Linked DNA regions of Homo sapiens: region 1 is linked to region 2. Evidence: fine-mapped expression QTL. A gene starts in region 2. The other region holds a variant in brackets. All regions are shown on one strand. Distances are between the middles of the regions.

Region 1 (11,050 bases), 56 kb before region 2:
ATTGTGCATAGAACTGTACCCCCTGAAAAGATACATTCCAGCCATAATTCCCAGTATCTATTAATGTACCTTACTTGGAAGTAGGGCCTTTGCAAATGTAATTAGGATAAGATGAGGTAATACTGCATTAGGGTGGGCCCTAATTCAATGACTGGTGTCCTTATAAGAAGACCATGTGGCAATGGAGGCAGAGATTGGAGTGATGCAGCTGCAAGCAAGCGAGGAATGCCAAGGACTGCTGGCACCCACCAGAAGGTAGGAAGAGGCAAGGAAGGACACTCTCCTAGAACCTTAAGAGAGCATGGCCCTGCTGACACCTTGATTTCAGACTTCTGGCCACCAGAAGGTTGGGAAAATAAATTTCTATTGTTTTAAGCCACTAAGTTTGTGGTAATTTATTGTGACAGCCCTGGGAAACTAATACAAGAGGCAAATTTTATTTCTTTACTTGGAACAAAAGTTCTTAAATTCCTGTCTGTAAACTATAACAAACTGGGGGGAATGAAGTAACGTTAAGAAGATATGTGTTGTTTTCTGTGATTTTTAAGGCCCTCAATAGCCTACCTATACACTCAGAGCTGCCATAATGCTTGTTGTGAAAAGATGAATTTGTTTGAACATGATTGATATGTTAGTAAATAATTTGAGTATAATGCAAATTTTGTGTTTATGCATGGTTTCTTCCATGAATAAACACTGAGGTGAAGTGATCCATGCAGGGATACTCAGTGCACATGGTATGAGTCACATTCAATCCATCTGGTGATTTCAGGTCACCCCATGTCCACCACTCACAGTAACTCATGAGACGCAATCCTCCCTACACCTACCTCCACAAAGAATCTACAAGGCTTTTTCTAGGTAAAGTGCCGTATTTACTTATTTATTTTTGAGACGGAGTTTCGCTCTTGTTGCCCAGGCTGGAGTGCAATGGCACGATCTTGGCTCACTGCAACCTCCGCCTCCCAGGTTCAAGTCATTCTCCTGCCTCAGCCTCCCGAGTAGCTGGGATTACAGGTATGCGTCACCATGCCCCGCTAATTTTTTGTATTTTTAGTAGAGATGGGATTTCTCCATGTTGGTCAGGCTGGTCTCAAACTCCCAACCTCAGGTGATCCGTCCACCTCGGCCTCCCAAAGTGCTGGGATTATAGGCACTAGCCGCCGCGCCCGACCAAGTACCATATTTATTATAGTCACTATGTATTTAACCACTTGCAGGTTTTATTAGATTCACTATCTGTTTTTTAATACGTTACTGACAAAGTTTTTGAGTGTCACTAATTTCATTTTTTCCAATCAGTCCTGTGGTTTTCATCACACAATTTGGCAAAGTGTGGGAATTTTCAGGAACACACATCACATTATAGCAGAACTGACTTTACTAAGCTAAGGTCCTCTCTAGTTCTAATCCCAAAGGACCCTGGAATGATCTCATACACCACCATTCTCCCCCATGTTACCCACTCTGTTCCAGCCAGTTCAACATCTCTGTTGCAAAGAAGAGCCTGCCAATGAATGGCCTGCAGGCAAAAACCAGCCACTGGATAACTTTTGTTTGAGTACCCAAAGTTTTTGTTTTTTTTTTTTCTTGAGACCAGGTCTTATTCTGTCACCCAGGCTGGAGTGCAGCAGCACGATGTTGGCTCTTTACAACCTCCACCTCTCAGCCTCAAGTGATCCTCCCATCTCAGTCTCCTGAGTAACTGGGACTACAGGCTCGTGCCAGCACGCCTGGCTAATTTTTGTATTTTTTATAGAGATGACGTCTCACTAGGTTGCCCAGGCTGGTCTTGAACTCCTGAGATCAAGCGATCCACCTACATCGGCCTCCAAAGTGCTGGGATCACAGGTGTGAGCCACTGCACTCAGCCCCCTAATTTAAAAAAAAAAACAAACAAACAAAAAAACTGTTTGCTAACATCTAAAAATTGAGTATTTCCCATAATCAAAATCAAATTTATAGTTCTCTTGACAAACTGGAAGCTCAGGTCATCCTGGGCTCAAGTTCTCCCCATGGTGCCAGGTGGCTGGAGCGGGTGTGGGTTGGCTACCTCTTTAGATGAGGTAGCCTCTCCAGTTTATCCCTATCCACCTTGCCACCTCTTTCACTGTAAACACCCGAGAAAGGGCTTGGTAGCTACAGACATGAATAGGAATGCTTGCTCTTCTACTTCCCAGCTGTGTCAACTTGGAGCAGTTACATAAGCCCTTGAGCTCCATTTATATATCTATGAAAAAGGATGACTAGGAAAGTGAAATGATACGATGTGTGTGAAACTGTTTGGTACACTGCCCAGAACATGACAGGACCTTGGTAAAGTATTTCTTCCCTCTAAGCTCTCACATACTCCTTTCCTCACTCAGTCTTGTCTTATCCCTTTCATCTTATCAAATCGCTCCTGAGGAAAAAGTCAAGACTTTTTACCATGGCTTACTCATTCTTTCATTCATTCCTAAAATATTTACTGAGGGGCTACTCTGTCAGACACTGTGTTAGACAGTGGCATATGAAGATGGCTCCTGCCCTCATGAAACTTTTAGTTCAATGGAAGAGACTGGCAATACACAAGGAAACAAACCAGTCAGTAAACAATTTCAATTTATGGTACATGTTATGAGGGAAAAGATCAGGTTGGGGTAACCCTGAATAACAAAAGTACTTAACTTTAAAAAGAGAGGTCAGGGGGCTGGGCACGGTGGCTCATGCCTGTAATCCCAGAATTTTGGGAGGCCGAGGCAGGCGGATCATAAGGTCAGGAGACCGAGACCATCCTGTCTAACATGGTGAAACCCCGTCCCTACTAAAAATATAAAAATTTAGCCAGGTGTGGTGGCGAGCACCTGTATTCCCAGCTACTCGGCAGGCTGAGGCAGGAGAATGGCATGAACCCGGGAGGCGGAGGTTGCAGTGAGCCAAGATCGCGCCACTACACTCCAGCCTGGGCGACAGAGCGAGACTCCGCCTCAAAAAAAAAAAAAAAAAGAGAGGTCAGGGAAAACCTCTGTGACAAGGTGACATTTAAGATGAGATTTGGGCTGGGTGGCACAGTGGCTCGCGCCTGTAATCCCAGCACTTTGGGAGGCCGAGGCAGGCTGATCAGCTGAGGTCAGGAGTTCGAGACCAGCCTGGCCAACATGGTGAAACTCTGTCTCTACTGAAAATACAAAATTAGCCTGGCGTGGTGGCGCATGTCTGTAATCCCAGCTATTTGGGAGGCTGAGGCAGAAGAATTGCTTGAACCTGGGAGGCAGAAGTTGCAGTGAGCCAACACTGTGCCACTGTACTCCAGCCTGGGCGACAAGAGCGAAATGCCTTTAAAAAAAAAAAAAAAAAAGATTCAAGGCTGAGGAGACAGCAGCCAAATAAATGTTTAGTGTTCCCAGCAAAGAGAAATGTTCTGGTATATGGAAAGCCCTGGGAGGAACAGTTTCTTGGGAACTGCTATCAGGCCCACAGACAACCAGCATGGCCCAGGAACCTAGAGAGGGAGGTGGAACGGCCCTGCTGCGAGTTTGGATTTCTTTCTGAGTACAATGAGAATCCCTTCAAGGGTTTGTCCCTCAACCCAAAACCAGCTCTTCAGATTTCCTATACTATTTATATACACACACATACCCACCTGCCCACTCACATACCTACATATACACAATTTCCTATAGTATACATAGAATTTACATATAGCATATATATAAAGTTTATAAGATAGGTCAGGGTATATTAGAGCATACCAAAAGATAATAGCAAAGATTATTGACTAAAAATAAAAAGGGTAAAAAGAACCTGCTTTAAAAAAGGTTTGCAAAAAGGTAAATAAATCCTGACCTTTGCAAAATGGTAAATAAATCTTTTACTTAAGTATAAATTTTAGCTCATATGAATAGTTCTGAATTACTATTTTATTTTTTTGAGACAGGGTCTCTCTGTGGCCCAGGCTGGAGTGCAGTGGCATGATCACAGCTCACTGCAGCCTCAACCTCCTGGGCTCAAGCAATCCTCCCACCAAAGCCTCCCAAGTAGCTAGGACTACAGGAATGCATCACCATGTCTGGCTAATTTTTTAGTTTTTTTGTAGAGATACAATCTCACTTTGTTGCCCAGGCTGGTCTCGAACTCCTGGGCTCAAGTAATAAGCCTTCTTCAGCCTCCCTAAGTGCTGGGATTACAAGTATGAGCCACTGTACCCAGCCTAAATGGAGGATATTAATCCAAATATATCAACAATCACTTTAAATATGAATTGATCCACATCCACCAATGAAAAGACAGATTGTCAGCTGGGTAAAAAAACAAGACCCTTATGAAATTATGTAGGAAGTAGGAAAAAAATGGGAAAAAATCAAGACCCCAATACATATTGCCTACAGGAGACCCATTTTATAAATAAAGACACAGACAGATGCAAAATAAAGGGATGGAGAAGCTGACAGTGGTGCACATTTGTAGTCCCAACTACTTGGGAGGCTGAGGCAAAAGGACAGCTTGGGCTCAGGAGTTTGAGGTTGTAGTGCCCTATGATCCTGTCTGTGAATAGTAAATGCACTCCAGCCTGGGCAACAGAGCAAGATTCTCCTAAAAAAAAAAAAAAAAAAAAGTTGGCCACGCACGCTGGCTCACACCTGTAGTCCCAGCACTTTGGGAGGCTGAGGCAGGTGGATTGCTTGAGCTCAGGAGTTTGAGACCCACCTTGGCAACATGGTGAAACCCCATCCCTATTTATAAAAAAAAAAAAAAAAAAAAAAAAAGCATTATGCGTGTGTGTATCCAGGCATGGTGGTATGCACCTGTAGTCCCAGCTACTTGGGAGGCGTAGATGGGAGGATGGCTTGAGCCTCTGAGGTAGAGGCTGCAGTGAGCTGTGTTCACGCCATTGCACTCCAGCCTGGGTGACAGAGCAAGACCCTGTCTCAAAAAAAAGAAAAAATGTCAAAACATAGAGAAAGTTATACCATGCTAGCAACTAACACTAATAAAAAGAAAACTATAGTAATTTCAGACAAAGCAGACTTCAGAACAAGGAAAATAAACATAAAGGGAAATGGTACATAATAAGAAAGGGGTGGCTGGGCATGGTGGCTCATGCCTGTAATCCCAGCACTTTGGGAAGCTGAGGCAGGAGTATCACTTGAGGTCAGGAGTTCAAGACCAGCCTGGGCAACATAGCAAGACTCTGTCTCAAAAATAAATAAATAAAAAGAAAGCAAGCAACCAAGAAAGCAAGCAAGAAAGGGGTTAATTCTCCATCGCTTCTCGACCTTTTGGCTAAGATCAAGAAAGGGTTAATTCTCCAAAAAGACATAACAATATAAAACATATATGCAACTAACAACAGAGCATCAAAGTGAGCCAAAAAAACTGATAAAACTGCAAGAAGAAAAACAGAGAAATCAACCGTTATAATTGGCTTTTTGATTCAGCTTGTTGAGATAACAATAAATCTTTGTCATCAATATATTATCCCTTCCTCCCAGCTTTTTGCCTTCAAGCTTGATACACCTACCTTCTCTTTGTTCAAAGATGTGAAAACACTCA[A/G]TGGGCCAGAGGCAGGTTCAGAGCCCTAGGGAAGACAACTTCCCATAAGTGAATATCGATTAGTTAATAACAATATTAGTAATAAGTTATTATATAATTAGTAAATATTGAACATTATTATGTGCCAGGTACCATTCTAAGCACTTTATAAGCAATATCCCTTTGATTCTTCATAATAACTTCGTGAGGCAAATACTACTATTATGTCTATTTTCCAAATGAAGAAAGTGAGGCATTAAAAAGTTAATTGACCAAGGTCAACAAAGCTAAGTGGGGCACTGGATTTGACTTCAAGTAGGGGCCCTTGCTCTTAATTACAGTACTAAGACATACTGCCTCTCAATTTAGAAGCAAATAAGTAATAAAATGGTACTTTATCTCAATGGTTTGAAACAACAGTTTAGGCTTTTGCTTTAAATGTAAGTTGGTTAAATAAATGTAAGCATTTTTTCTTTATTTTTTTTAAAGAATTGATGAAGTTGTACTGTATTTCATGCCCAAAAGGCACAACTCTTTAGTGAAACCCTTAGGAAGGTTTGTTTTTGGAAAGAGTTCTTCTGGAAAGGCAGGGTTGCCATTGGCAGGTTGCAGGTACCTGAATGCGCTGAGGTGAGGCTACAGCAGAGTCGGTGGAGATTATCTGGATGCGTGGGGAGGGGCTGGTCATCCCTGGAGATTCCGGCCGAGAGGTCTGTGTACGTGTTACCTGTGGGTGAGAAGTGGGCTGGATCACAAGGGGGTTCAGAATGATGCCCAGAGGTGGCCTGAAGACCACGCCTCTTGCTTTCACTGTGGCCTGGAGTGATGAACTTGTATGGTTCTGAGGTATGGACCCAGAAGGATGATGACAAAGCAATCAATGAGATGTTGCTACAGGATGCCCCCCAGGAAAATACAATCTTAAAACAGCTGTTTCAAATGTTGAAAATGTAAGAAGAAACCAAAGGAATTTGCAGTTGTGCTCTGCACACTTTAATAAAGTAAAAACCTACCAAAACAACATTTTAAAGATGATCTTTGAATGTTATCCCTGTCTCCAAAGCCACCTGTAAAACATTCCTTTAATATGGTTTCCCGAGAAAGGCTCTCACAACACAGCAGGGGATGACAAACAAAACCAACATTACACTGAAACCTACTGGGATTAGTACTTATAAAAGCGTCCTGGTAATTTCTCAGCCCCAATGGGATGGAGCTGGGAAAAGCCTGTCAGGACCACAGGGTCTGAAATTTAGTCAATACCTATCCCAAAGGCAAGGTACAAGGTGCTGAGTGGTCACCTGGGTATCTGAAGCAGGCAGATATATTTTTTCTTGATAGAAAGTGTATTGTGGCTGGGTGTGCTGGCTCACACCTATAATCCCAGCATTCGGGAGGCCAAGGTGGGCAGATCACTTGAGGTCAGGAGTTCGAGACCAGCTGGCCAAAATGGTAAAACTCCATCTCTACATTAAAAAAAAAAAAAAAAATTAGCCAGGCACGATGGTGCGCACCTGTAATCCCAGCTACTCGTGTGGCTGAGGCAGGAGAATCGCTTGAACCAGGGAGGTGGAGGCTGCAGTAAGCGGAGATTGTGCCACTGCACTCCAGCCTGGGTGACAGAAAAAAAAAAAAGTGTATTGTGGGTCGGCGGCGGTAGCTCACGCCTGTAATCCCAGCACTTTGGGAGGCCGAGGTGGGTGGATCACTTGAGGTCAGGAGTTAGAGACAAGCCTGACCAACATGGTAAAACCCTGTCTCTACTAAAAATACAAAATTAGCCAGGCATGGTGGCCCGTGCCTGTAATCCCAGCTACTAGGGAGGCTGAGGCAGGAGAATCGCTTGAACCCGGGAGGCGGAGGTTGCAGTGAGCCAAGATCATGCTATTGTACTCCACCCTGGGCAACAAGAGTGAAACTTTGTCTCAAAAAAAAAAAAAAAAAAAAAAAAAAAAAAGTATATTGTGAACACTTCACAAAAAACTCTTCCTAAAATTAGAAGAAAACACTTCCCAATTCTGTGAGGCCAATATTACCTGATACTGAAACCAAAGACATCACAGGAAAAGAAAACTACAGACCAATATCTCTTATGAATAGAAACACAAACAATCCTCTACAAAACTCTAGCAAACCAAATCCAGTGGTATATAAAGGATTATACACCACGAATAACTGGGGTTCATCCCAGGAAAGCAAGCTTGTTCAAATATGAAAATCAAACAGTTCTATACATTGCATTAAAGGAATAAAGGACAGAAGCCACATAATTATTTCAATTGATGGCGAAAAAGCATTTGACAAAATCTAACAACATTTCATGAAAAAAACACTCAATAAACGAGATATAAAAGGAAAGTTCTCAATCTGATAAAGGGTCTCTATAAAATACTCACAGCTATACAGTATACTTAGCGGTAAAAGACTAAAAGCTTTCCTTCTAAGGTTAAGAATAAGATGAGGATGTCCATTCTCTCTACCTCAACATTGCACTAGGGGTTCTAGCCAGGGCAATTAGGAAAGAAAAAGAATAAAAACATTCAGAATAGAAAGGAAGAAAACTATCTCTGTTTGCAAATAACATGATCTCATATAGAAAAAAATCCCACAGAATCCACAAAAAACCCATCAGAGCAAGTAGACGAGTTTCAGGGTTGCAGGATATAAGATCAAAACACAAAAACTGGCCAGGTGCAGTGGCTCAAGCCTGTAACCTTGGCACTTTGGGAGACCGAGGTAGGAGGATCACTTGAGGTCAGGAGTTTAAGACCAGTCCGGACAACAAAGCAAGACCCATCTCTACAAAAAAATCAAAAAATCAGGTGTGTGTGGTGGTACGTGCCTGTAAGTCCCGGGTACTCAGTAGGTTAAGGTGGGAGGATTGCTTGAGCCCAGTTGTTCTAGGTTGCAGTGAGCCATGATTGTGTCACTACACAGCCTGGGCAAGACTTTCAAAAACAAAAAACAAGGCCAGGCACAGTGGCTCACACCTGTAATCCCAGCACTTTGGGAGGCCAAGGCAGGCGGATTACCTGAGGTCAGGAGTTCAGGACCAGCCTGGCCAACATGGTGAAACCCCATCTCTACTAAAAAACACAAAAATAAGCCGGGTATGATGGCGGGGCCTGTAATCCCAGCTACTCAGGAGGCTGAGACAGGAGAATTGCTTGAACCCAGGAGGCGGAGGTTGCAGTGAGCCAAGATCACGCCATTGCATTCCAGCCTGAGCGACATGAGTGAAACTCTGTCTCCAAAAAAAAAACCAAAAAAAAAAAAAAAAAAAACCCAAAACAAAAACACAATAATCAATTGTATTTTTATATATTAGCAATGAGCAATCTGAAAATGAAATTAAGGAAGCAATCCCACTGACCATGCATCAAAAAGGATAATATATTTAGAAATAAAATAAATTTAACAAAAGAAATGCAAGATTTGAATACTGAAAACTATAAGATATTGCTATGAGAAATTTAAAACACCTAAATAGGCTGGGCACGGTGGCTCACGCCTGTAATCCCAGCACTTTGGGAGGCCGAGGCAGGTGCATCACAAGGTCAGGAGATTGAGACCACCCTGGCTAACACAGTGAAACCCTGTCTCTACTAAAAATACAAAAAATTAGCCGGGCGTGGTGACGGGTGCCTGTAGTCCCAGCTACTCAGGAGGCTGAGGCAGGAGAATGGTGTGAATCCGGGAGGCAGAGCTTGCAGTGAGCCGACATTGTGCCACTGCATTCCAGCCTTGGCAACAGAGCAAGACTCCGTCAAAAAAAAAAAAAAAAAAAACCTAAATAAATAGAAAGACATTTGTGACTTAATATTGTTAAGATGGTGATATTCCCCAAATTGATCTAAAGATTCAATGTAATCCCTATCAAAATTTCAGGTGCTTTTTTGCATAAATTGACAAAATGATCCTAAAATTCATATGGGAATGCATGGGACCCAGAGTATCCAAAACAATCTTGAAAAAGAACAAAGTTGGAGGTCTCACACTTCCTTATTTCAAAACTTATTTACAAAGCTACGGTAATTAAAACTGTGTGGAATCCAGCAATCACACTTCTGGGTGTTTACCCAAAAAGATTTGAAATCAGTTTGTTGAAGAGATGTCTGCACTCCCATGTTCTCTGCAGCACTGTTTGCAATAGCCAAGTTACATAATCAACCAACAAGTCCATCAATAGATGAATGAATAAAGAAAATGTGGTATATACACACAATGGAATACTATTCAGCCTTTAAAAAGAAGGAAATTCTGTCATTTCTGATGACACGGATGGAACTGGAGAACATTATGGTAAGTGAAATAAGCCAGGCACAGAAAGACAAATACCACATGTTCTTACTTAAATGTGGAATCTAAAAGAATCAAACTCATAAAACCAGAGTAAAATGGTAGTTAACAGAGGCTGAGGGGCAGGGGGAATGGGGAGATGAAAGTCAGGTCAAAAGGTACAAAATCTTAGGAGGAATACTTTTCTTTTTTTTTAGACCTATTGCACAGCATGGCGAATACAGTTAATAATAGCCTATTGTACATTTCAAAATTGCTAAGAGTAAATTTCAAATGTTCTCATGGCAAAAATAAGTATTTAAGGTGATGGATATGTTAATGAGCTTGATTTAATTTTTACACATTGTAGTCACGGATCATAACATCACTTTGTACTGTAAATATATGCAATATAAACTCAATTTGTAACTTAAAAAAATTGCAGTACCGGCATAAAGACAAGACATACAGACCAATGGAATATAACAGAGAATGCAGAAATAAACCCTCACCTATATGTTCAAATTTGATAAAGGTGCCACGATAATTCAATAGGCAAAGAACAGTCTTCGACAAATGGTGATGGGACAAGTGGAAATCAAATGCAGGGGAACAAATCTGGACACCTACCTTGCACTATTACAAAAAAAAAAAATCAAAATGGATCAAAGATCTAAATGTAAGAGTTAAAACTATAAAACTCTCAGAAAACACAGGTGTAAATCTTCGTGAACTTGAATTAGGTGATTGTTTCTTAGATGACACCAAAAGCAAAAATAGCACAAGAAAAATTAGAAAATAATCATTAAAACTAGAAACTTTTTTTTTGGGGGGGACAAGATCTCTTACTCTGTTGCCTGTGCTAGAGCGCAGTAGCACAATTATGGTTCACTGCAGCCTCATCCTCCTGGGCCCAAGCAATCCTCCCAACCTCAGCTTCCTGAGCAGCTAGGATCACAGGTGTGTGCTACCATGCCGGGCCAATTTAAATTTTTTTTGTTTGTTTTTGAGACGGAGTTTCACTCTTGTTGCCCAGGCTGGAGTGCAATGGTGCGATCTCGGCTCATCGCAACCTCTGCCTCCTGGGTTCAAGTGATTCTCCTGCTTCAGCCTCCTGAGTAGCTGAGATTATAGGCATGAGCCACCACACCAGGCTAATTTTGTATTTTTAGTAGAGACAGGGTTTCTGCATGTTGGTCAGGCTGGTCTCCAACTCCTGACCTCAGGTGATCCACCCGCCTGGGCCTCCCAAAGTGCTGGG
Region 2 (10,471 bases):
AAAAATGATTTTTCAATTCCAGGGTTAGTCATCTTATCAACCTAATAAAAAGATGCATCATTACAGACACCATAGTGGTGGGACAGGGGACAAGAACGAGTGTGGTACAAATGACATATCCAAAATGTTCTAGAAATAATACCTAATCAGATTCACTATACAACAAATACACTGGGGGAAATGCAGCATGAAGCCCGCTAGTATTGTGTAACTTCTCAAGAGCCATCCAGCCTCAGTTGTTTTTTTTTTTTTTTTTGAGATGAAGTCTCGCACTGTCGCCCAGGCTGGAGTGCAGTGGCGTGATCTTGGTTCACTGCAGCCTCCACCTCCCGGGTTCAAGTGATTCTCCTGCCTCAGCCTCCCGAGTAGCTGGGATTACAGGCGCCTGCCACCACGCCCAGCTAATTTTTTGTATTGTTAGTAGAGATGGGGTTTCACTATGTTGGCCAGGCTGGTCTTGAACTCCTGACCTCATGATCCGCCTGCCTTGGCCTCCCAAAGTGCTGGGATTACAGGGGTGAGCCACCACGCCTGGCCATACGTGAATCTTTCTTTTTAAGGAACATGGGTGGGCAGTCAGGTAGGAAACTTTTTCCCCTGCATAGCTTTTATCAACATATGAACAACAAAGGTAAATAAAGCAGCTCCCTGTAAAACCAGGAAGCCTTCAGGCTTGAGTCTAGCCCTACCAGCCTCTCATTTCTCTTCACTTTTCAGCAGCAGTCACCCCATTTTCCAGGCCCCAAGACCTTTTCTCACACCTCTCACTAACGCAAACAGGGGGGAAATATTCTTTTACACTTGGGCACTTGGAATGAAATTCCTCTCCATCTACATGTTAACATTTCAGGGATTAGAATCTTTGAGGTAACTGTTAATAATTATGGAATAGAAAGTTTCACCTCCTATTAAAGGACTTCAGGCCTCTTATTACAGTGAAGGAGGTACTTTTTATTGCCCCTAAAAAATCACACTTGCCTCTGAGGCTGACTTTCATCATTACAGGCCAACTGGAGTCCAAGGGTAACACAGAAAAAACAGTTAAGTGTCTGAGCTAGCCTATTCCCTTTCTGTCCTTAACAATTCACCTCCCATCCTTCTATTCTAAGACTTCCAGGTACCAGGGGTCTGCATCTGCATTTATTGTACCTTTAACAAATGCCTACGCCAATGCCCTGATCTGGCTTTCATCCCTCTAGTCATTCCCACTCCTCATCATTGTTGAGCTGTGCTAGTTGAGCTGTTGTTCTTGGGCAGTTCTTCCTTTTGGTATAGAGCTCCTGCTGCTTTACTCTCTAGCACTCAGGACCTGAAGTGAGCAAGGGGAGTAGGACTGCTACCTCGGGTAGCAATAGTGGGATATGGGGAAAGAGTGGCAGGATGGGAGAGAATGACAGAGAATCTCAGCCTCTGGCATATTAAGTTGAAGGCAAGCAAACCTCCAACGAATAAGGAAGAACATATCTTTTACAATGTGTAACAGGAGCACAAATGTATCCATTAAGTTAAAGATGATGATCACACAGGGAAGAAAAAAGGCATCATTTAAGGCCCTCATAATTAGCAATAAAGTAAAAAGAGGTAAACGAAAATCTAGCAGGGGATCCTTACATCAAGGCTGGACTTGGGGTCTAGACCACTTCCAATTCTGAGATTCTAAGATTCCTTCACGGACTCCCCCCGTGTGGTATTTTTTAAGATGATACTTGTACAGGAGATGGTTTGGGACTAAAGGAGCGTATGGCTTATAGGTAAGAGAACTCAACAATAAAAATCCCAACGGAGGGCCCTCGATATGTGGAGACACTCAGGCAGCTAGACACAGACCAGTGGCTCAGTGCCACGGCTGAAGACAGGGCTGCTCCACAAAGACTCACCTCCCTTGTTCTCAAAGTCATTCAGACAACAAGTATCCGCTATCCCTGGCCCCAATCTCAATGCTGGCTCCCACCTCCCTGTTTGACAAATGGGGAATTATAAGCCTCAGAGAGGCTACCAACTCCAGGTTCTGAAGCCAGGCCTTTCTGCCTTCATAGCCCAAGCTCTGTCACTGCACTGCCCTTGCCATGTTACTCCTTGGAGACAGATGCTAAAAACTTCCCAGTTGCTGGGCGCAGTGGCTCACACCTGTAATCCCAGCACTTTGGGAGGCCGAGGCAGGCGGATCACGAGGTCAGGAGTTTGAGACCATCCTGGCTAACATGGTGAAACACCGTCTCTACTAAAAATCCAAAAATTAGCCAGGCGTGGTGGCGGGCACCTGTAGTCCCAGCCACTGGGGAGGCGGAGGCAGAAGAATGGCGTGAACCCAGGAGGCAGAGCTTGCAGTGAGCCGAGATCGCACCACTGCACTCCAGCCTGGGTGACAGAGCGAGACTCCCAAAAACAAAAAAAAACACACAAAAAAAACTTCCAGCCATCCTCATAAAGTGAGGAGGTTGTTACGCACAGGGATTTTCTATAAAAGAATGATCACGAAACAAAACTTAAAAGTCACTGTGAATACAACTACTGAAAGCAATAAATAACTTAACGATGTAAGACAACATATAGCTGTTTTACTAAACTAGCAGTTCTTTGGTTACCCTGAGTAATTAGCTTAAGGAATTGAACAAGTGATACCAAAAATCTTTGAGCAAGACAGAAAAAAAAACCCAAAAATAAACAGTTAAACTATTATTATTTTTAAAATACCATAACAATATCTTATTTTAAAAGTTTTACAATATAAAATAAGTTAATACAAATGTTTTATTTACCACACTTTCGAGTAGAAACTTGATGTATACTTAACAAAATTTGCTTTTAACCTTGGTAAAGCAATTAAAAGGTGATTTTCAATAATTTCATTAAATGAATCAATTTATCTTTAGAAAGATAAATATCCCGAATTAATGGCTACAGAGACTTTCAACTCCCAATTCCCTGTGAACCCACTGGAGGCTTGTTCCTTCTCTCCAATCCCCTGTGATGGTGAGACAAAAATCAGAATATTTGATTTCAAGAAAATCATGGTAGCTTAGTGCTTCGTTTCTTCAGCTAAAGTAAATAACATAAGTTATGTTTGGGCTATTTATTTCTTCACATATGAACTTATTAACTTTCATGCACTTAAACTTGTAATTCAATCATAAAAAAATGAGTGGGAAAAACTATTGAAATGGGTCATTTTATCCATATTTATGTCTCCAGAAAGTGGCATATCTGTCAGAAATCACTTGCTAAATTCAACCAAATACCGTAACAGGCTTATTATTGCTGGCAGTGCTATCTGAATTGCCAAAGAGGCTCACACAAAAGGTATCCATCAATGTACAGCAACTTAGTTATCAGTGACATCATAAATTATCAACAATTCATTCAACAAATAGTGCCAGGCACTCTTCTAAGTGCTGGATAAGTAATGGTAAACAAAATGTATTCCTGCTCTCACAGCTTACAGTGTGGTAAGGACAGACATTAATCAAATAATCACATAATAGAGTGTGTAATTATAAAGTGAGATAAAGATTATAAAGAAAAGAATAAAAAGAATCTGATTTAGACTGGCAATGGGAATTAGGACTTCCCTGAAGAAGTGATGCTTGAGCCAATATCTGAGGTAGGGTGGGGGTGGGGGGTAAGCTTACACTGTAAGCTACACTGGTCAAGGAAGTTGAAGGTAGGCCAGTGTGTCTAGAGCACAGGAAGCTAGGGGTACCACAGATAAGAAAATAATGAAAAGCCTTGGAAAGGTTTTTAAACATGGAACAGGAAGCCTCTGCCATTACGTGGGTTCTAGTGGCGCCTGAACAACATACTGCCTGTAAGAGAGTTCTGTAAATCATAAAGCACCCTATACTTTGGTTAGTACTATTTAGTTCCATTATTTTGTTTTCCAAACTTTTGTCCTGGATGCCATGTAACTAGCTGCAAGCACAGAGCCAAAACTAGAATCTCGGTGTTCGAATCTATTGTTTTTGCCCCTACACCACACTGCATAAAAATTTCATTATTTATATCACTTAATTAGTCCAATGTCTATACCAGTAGTTCATAATGACAACAATAACTCTATTTACACAGTATTTGCTACATGTCAGGCACTTTTCTAAGCTCTATTATTTACATTAACTCATCTAATCTTCAGTTCAGGAAGGAAGGCTCTATTATTGTCCAGATGAGGACAGTGAGGCTAGGAAAGGTAGCTTACACAAAATCACACTGCTAGTAAAAGTTGGGGAGTTGCTAACCACAACACTAAAACATTTTATGTCTGTGTATGTATGTGTATAAATATCTCTATCTCGAGAGAGAGAAAGAGAGAACTCACACACAGAGAATTATATTCAACTCCAGCCTGGGCGACAGAGTGAGACCTTGGTCTCAAAAAATAAATAAATAAATAAATAAATCATATTCACATGTTTGAGGACCAGTGTCTTACTTTTTTGTATTCCCAGCCTAGCACATAGTGCCTGGAGTATTCGTAGCACTCAGGAAATACTTGATGAACTGAAAATGTATATAAGAGGCTGACGAAGGATTTGAATCTGGAAGTAAAGTGAGTTTCTGAGGCCCTCCTCCCAAGTCATGTATTCATCAGTAATTCATATGAAGGCTGTATTTTCCTCGACTTTCTTATTACATTGAAGATTTGTTCCTCACTACCGTTGCTATATTTCACAGCCTTTGGCTTGGAAACAAAGTGGGATAATGGACAATTACTAGTTCCAACCAACTCTCCAGCCACAAGCAGCCAGTTCTCGATCACATCAAATGCTCTTCCTCCAGGGCCGTTACACGGGATGTCCTGTCTGGAATGCCATTCCTCCCTTGGGTTCCTCTGTTCAAACATCACTTACTCAGAGAGGCCACCCTGACCATTCCATCTAAATTAACGCCTCAGGTCTTCTTCAGCAGGTCATTTGGCTTCTTTTCTTTCACAGAACTTATGACTCTCTGGAATTATTTGTCTATTCACCCCCCAGCCCCCAACTCTAGTGAGGGCAGGGGTCTTGTACAGCTGGTTCTCCAGATGTGTCCCCAGTGCCTAAAAAACTAAGTCAACATGTATTCAGCGAACGAATGAGAAGAGAATCACTCCCGAATTGTGCTCTCTCAAACCCCAAATACCCTTAACGCTTGCCTCTCCTGGTGGCTGTAATCCCATTTTTAACAATAACACCATTTTCAAGTGACTCTGAAGCTCGCAAAGTAGCGTTGCCTCCATTTTCTGAGTAGAGCCCCACAAACAATGCTCAGAAGGGAGGTCCGGCCTGGCAAGAATGCGCATGCCCCCCATTTACAGTCGATAAAATTGAGCCTCATTAGGGGATTCGCCAAGGCCGCTGCGAAATAACGAGCAGGAGCCCTGAAAAGTGTCCTGGTTCCGAAAACCTCTTCCCACGAGAGCGCATCGTGGACTCGAAATGCTTCATCACCTTTATTACTATTGTTCCTCAGTACTCATTCGAGACGCGTTCCAGGCGGAGGGAAGCAGCCCACCTGCTGACCCAAGACCAGGCGCCGGCCTCTCCACCCGGCCGCGCCCCTCGCGCCCCGCCCCCGGCCCCGCCCCCGCCGACCCGGCCCCACTCTTCGCCCCGGCCTCTACTCCCGCCCCGCCAGGGCTCCCGCGCCCCATAAGGACCACCCTCTTCCGCCTCAGCCAATCAGCAAAGCTTAGGGGGGCGGTGCCACAGGCCCCGGCCCTCCTATCTGGGCGCCAATTAGCCAGCCCATCCGTCGCTCACGAGGTCGCGCCTCGCACCCGCCTTCCTCCTTTTCTTTTACCCTCCCCTTCAGAAAAAACGGCGGTTGGGCTGCGACGGCCGCCAAAGGCGGACTAGAAGCGGAGGGGTGAAAATCCCGGCAGAGAAGGAAGAAGGGACTGCAGGCGGGAGGAGGAGGAGGATAAGGAGGAAGGGAGCCCGCCCAGCCGGAGCCATCTCCGTCGAGAACAAAATGGCGGCGCTGGCGGAGGGCCAACTATAAGGCGGGGCCGCGGCCATTCCCCCTCCACCCCCACCCTTGCGCCGGCCGGGCCGGTCAGGGGGAACCCGCTCGCTTCGCCCGGCCGCGGGCGGGGAGGGGAGGGGAGCGGCCCGGCCCACTATGCAAAGCGCCGGGCGCCGCCGCCGCCACCCCGTGGCAAAGGTAAAAGGGTCGGGTTCAGCCGCCGCCGCGGCGCCTCCATGTCCGCGCGCCAGGCCCGCCCCCTCCGCCGCCGGCCCGAGCCCGCCCGACCCTCTTTCAATTTTACCTCAGGATTTGGCGCCAAAGCGGCCTCGAAGCGGGTCCCGTGTCTGCGGCGGGCGGCCCCCGGCGCGGAGGGCAGGGCGCGGGGAGCCCGGGCTCCCGGTGTCGGCGGATGGCGGGAGCCCGGGGGCCGCGGGCTCGCGGGGCAGCGGGCGAGAGACGAGACGCCGAGGTGGGAGCGGGGTGGCGGGGACGGGCCCGGGGGCGCCGCCGGGGTCGCGGAGAAGGGGGGGTTTGTTATTGTTTTTGTCAGTGAAAGGTCAGAGTTCGTGACCCCGGTGCCGCCGCCGCCGCCGCCCGCGCGCTGGTAGGAGGAGGGCGAATGTTCTTCTTCCTCTTCCCAGCGCCAGCCTCGCCGCCGCGGCGGGGGGCGGGCGAGAACGCGATTGGCTGAGGCGCGCGCGCGCACCGGAACGCCGCAGCCGGCGCTCGGTCCATCCGGCCCGTGGGCTGTGGGGCCCCGGGCGGCGGCGGCTACGTAGCTGCCGCCGGCCTTGGCCGCGGCCGGGCGGGCGGATATGTGGCTTAAATGGCGCAGGCGTCGGGGCCTAGAGGCTGAAGGGCTGGTCGTCCTAAAAACTCGTGGACGTCGCGCACGGTTACCCGGACGCAGGCCCGCCCCTCTGGGGAACCGCGAGCTCCTCGCAGCTGGGTGGGGACCGTCCTCGCAGTGGCGGCCTCCACCCTGCCTTCTCGCTTAGCCAAGGCTTCTGGAAGGCTCGCAAAGTGTCTGTTGTTGGAAGAAGCCGGGCCCTGACTGGCGCGACGGATTCTCCCAGCCGCTCAGCAGAGCGTCTGTAGGTCGGAAGTGGGGGTTGTATTGGGTGGGTATTGAGCTCTTCGGCCCTTCCTCGGTACTGATAGTTTTTAATTTAGGTTTTAAAGGTCTAAAGATGCGCCCGTTCTGGCCATCTCAGGTGAAATGTTGAAACGCCCCAGAACCTATAATTTTTGGTTTCTTAGTAAACATACGATCCAGATCTTGTGTAATTCCATGCCCCTCCTCCTCGAAATTTGGAAGTAGTACATGGTAATAGGGATGTGTAAAGCAGCTTTTAGCAGCATTGCTTAAATTTATTTGAAGAAATTGGCCTGTCTTGCTCTTAAACTCTTGGGCTGTAGGTTTTCCTTACATATTTCTCTGTTTTATGTCGTGGTTTTGACTTGCCTGGGAAGGTGCAGGCGCTTATTTATCCTAAATGCCCTGAAGTGTTTAGGCTACAGGCTGTAGATCTTATACTGATTTTTTTTCTTCAGTTTTCTTGCTTATTAAGAATAAATATTGACTCCAGAATGGATGGGTTAACTTTTTTTCCCACACAGTATCCATTTGGGTTTTTATCAGGATGACTCCAACATTTAGTATTTTTTTTTCCATAATCTTATAATATTTCTATTTGGTAAAAAATGTTTTAAACACAGCTATTTCCCCTTCCTCCTTTTTCTGACGTTGCAAAATTGGGAAAAGAGCTAGGTTCGTTTTGTCATGGTAAAGCACAGCTCTTGAAATTGGAAGAGGCCTTAAGGGAATGTGGTCAAATTTTTTTCTTGCAGAAAGATTTTCCGATTTTAGGGGTGAAGTGGGTGAGAACTAGAAAGGTCAAGTGATGTACCTGAGAGGCAAAAGCAATTGCGTTTTTGCATTTTTGAAATTTGCTGTTTGATATTGGAATACATTCTTAAATAAATGTGGATCATTTTAATGCACATTTCTCACTTTATTTTTTTGCTAATGACTTATTGCTGTTTATTTTAGAATATGCTTTTTGTCTAATGATGTTAGATAAAAAGCAAATTTGGAGCAGTTTTCTTATTCGAGTTCAAAATGGTTCATAAAGCAGCGAAGACAACTCAAAACATCAGTAACACATTTGGCCCAGGAACTGCTAACAAACATACAGTGCAGTGGTGGCTTAAGAAGTTTTGCAAGGAAGAGAGCCTTGAAGATGAGGAACGTGATATGGGCCATGGGAAGTTGACAACGACCAATTGAGAGCAATCATTGAACTACATGAAAAATTACAGAAGAACTCAGCGTTGACTATTCTACGGTCATTAGGGTCGTTCAGCATTCGAAGCAAATTGGAAAGGTGAAAAAGCTTGATAAGTGGGTGCCTCATGAGCTGAGCGGAAATCAAAACTATCGTTTTGAAGTGTAGTCTTCTTTTATGCTACGCAACAACAAACCATTTCTCAATCGGATTGTGACATGTAATGAAAAGTGAATTTTATACAACAACCAGCTCAGTGGTTGGACCAAGAGGCAGCTCCAAAGCAGTTCCCAAAGCCAAACTTGCACCAAAAAAAAGGTCATGGTCACTGTTCGGTGGTCTGCTGCCCATCTGATCCACTACAGTTTTCTGAATCCTGGTGAAACCATTACATCTGAGAAGTATGCTCAGCAAATTGGTAAGATGCACCGAAAACTGCAATACCTGCTGCCTGCATTGGTCAACAGAAAGGGCCCAATTCTTCTCCACGACAACACCTGACTGCGTGTCGCACAACCAGTGCTTCAAAAGTTGAAGGAATTGGGCTACAAAGTTTTGCCTCATCCACCATATTCACCTGACCTTTCGCCAACTGACTACCACTTCTGCTAGCATCTTGACAACTTTTTGCAGGGAAAACACTTCAGCATGGTGCAGAAAATGCTTTCCAAGAGTTCGTCAAATCCTGAAGCACGGATTTTTATGCTACAGGAATAAACAAACATTTCTCATTGGCAAAAATGTGTTGATTGTAATGGTTCCTGTTTTGATTAATAGAATATGTTTTAGCGTAGTTACAATGATTTAAAATTCGCAGTCTGGAAATTTAATTTTTGCATCAACCTAATATTTCTATGGTAAATCCTTGCAAACATGGAAACAATGCATTTGGCCCAGTGCTTTGTGGTTGTGTACTCTTTTTCTTTGTTTTTTTAATAGATGGCATTGGCCGGGCATGGTGGCTCATGCCTGTAATCCCAGCATTTTGGGAAGGTGAGGTGGGTGGATCACCTGAGGTCAGGAGTTCAAGACCAGCCTGACTAACATGGTAAAACCCCATCTCTACTAAAAATACAAAAAAATTAGCTAGGCGGGGTGGCGGGCATCTAATTCCAGCTACTTCATGAGGCTGCGACAGGAGAATCATTTGAACTCGGGAGGCAGAGGTTGCAGTGAGCCGAGATCACACCATTGCACTCCAGCCTGGGCGATGAGCGAAACTGTCTCAAAAAAAAAAAAAGTTGGGGTCTCGCTGTGTTGACCAGGCTGGTCTCGAACTCCTGGCCTCAAGTGATCCTCCCATCTTGGCCTCCCAAAGTGTTAGGATTACAGGCGTGAGCCACCACACCCTGCCTGGTTGTGTACTCTTTTAAATACTAAGTTTTTAATGTTAAATGCTGCTTTTAGATACACTGTAAAAATACACCTATCAATGAGTTTTTTTATTAAAAACATTGCAATTGTACTAGACTTTAAATACTAAGCAATAATTCAGGCTTCAATGTTGGTTTATAGTTTTCTCATTTCTTTCATTTAATACCTCTGTAAAATGAAGCAGTTACTTCCATTTTCCTGAGGTGAGATAAGTGCCCTGCACAATGTTATAGGCCCAGTAAGTGAGACTGGAGCTCTGATCTAATCCCTTTGACATTAAAGTTTGTGCAGTAAACCAGCTATGTCAGTTTGCCACATTTGTAATAGTGTTCAATAAATTTTCACTTAAAGGTTTAATATTAAAGTAGTAGCAAGAATTCATAACCTTAATTGGCTTTAACAGCTTTTCTTTCCCTGAAAACAGATGCATATGTACACATGCACACAGATTGCTTACAATATCAGCACGTAAAAGGCCTTTGCACATTGAAGTCGGCACTGCTTTGGTGCCTTTTTTGTTTTTTGGCTCGGTGTTTTGACTGCAAGTCTTTTTGGATAGAATTTTATAGTTAGAAAGTAGCTAACACTTGGGTTTTATAGGCACAAAAAACAAGTCTTATACTAGCTGTACTTTATTTTTTGAGTTCTTATTAATGAGGAACATCCACTTTTGCATTGACAGTGATTTCAAGATTGCTTTATCAGCCTTTAAAGGATTCTTGACTAGTCGTGCACATCAGAACTGCCAGGTCCCCAGTGGTTCTGAAGCAGTAAGCTTTGGGTGGGCTCTGGCATCAGCACTTTCACTAAGCTTCACAGATAATTCTGATGCATACTCCAGGCCTGAACCACTGATCAATTTGAAA

Evidence for each region.
Region 1: its variant is fine-mapped to the expression of NR2C2 in whole blood (TOPMed, PIP above 0.99).

Annotation. Positions count from the first base shown.
Region 1 is chr3:14,999,064-15,010,113 of GRCh38, reverse strand. NR2C2 (nuclear receptor subfamily 2 group C member 2) reads right to left here. Exons shown (of 14, transcript NM_001291694.2): 2 at 6,128-6,238. The coding sequence starts at 6,199. Among named protein-coding and RNA genes, the nearest start is that of FGD5-AS1, 56 kb to the right of the region's middle. The variant A/G (reference allele first, on the strand shown) is at 5,533.
Region 2 is chr3:14,943,680-14,954,150 of GRCh38, reverse strand. It overlaps NR2C2 (nuclear receptor subfamily 2 group C member 2), which reads right to left and starts at 6,568. Exons shown (of 14, transcript NM_001291694.2): 1 at 6,245-6,568. It overlaps FGD5-AS1 (FGD5 antisense RNA 1), which reads left to right and starts at 5,710. Exons shown (of 2, transcript NR_046251.1): 1 at 5,710-6,138; 2 at 7,997-10,471. RefSeq lists enhancers at 4,664-5,351, 5,706-5,905, 5,352-6,039, 6,728-7,417 and silencers at 5,506-5,565, 5,956-6,375, 6,396-6,465, 6,516-6,945.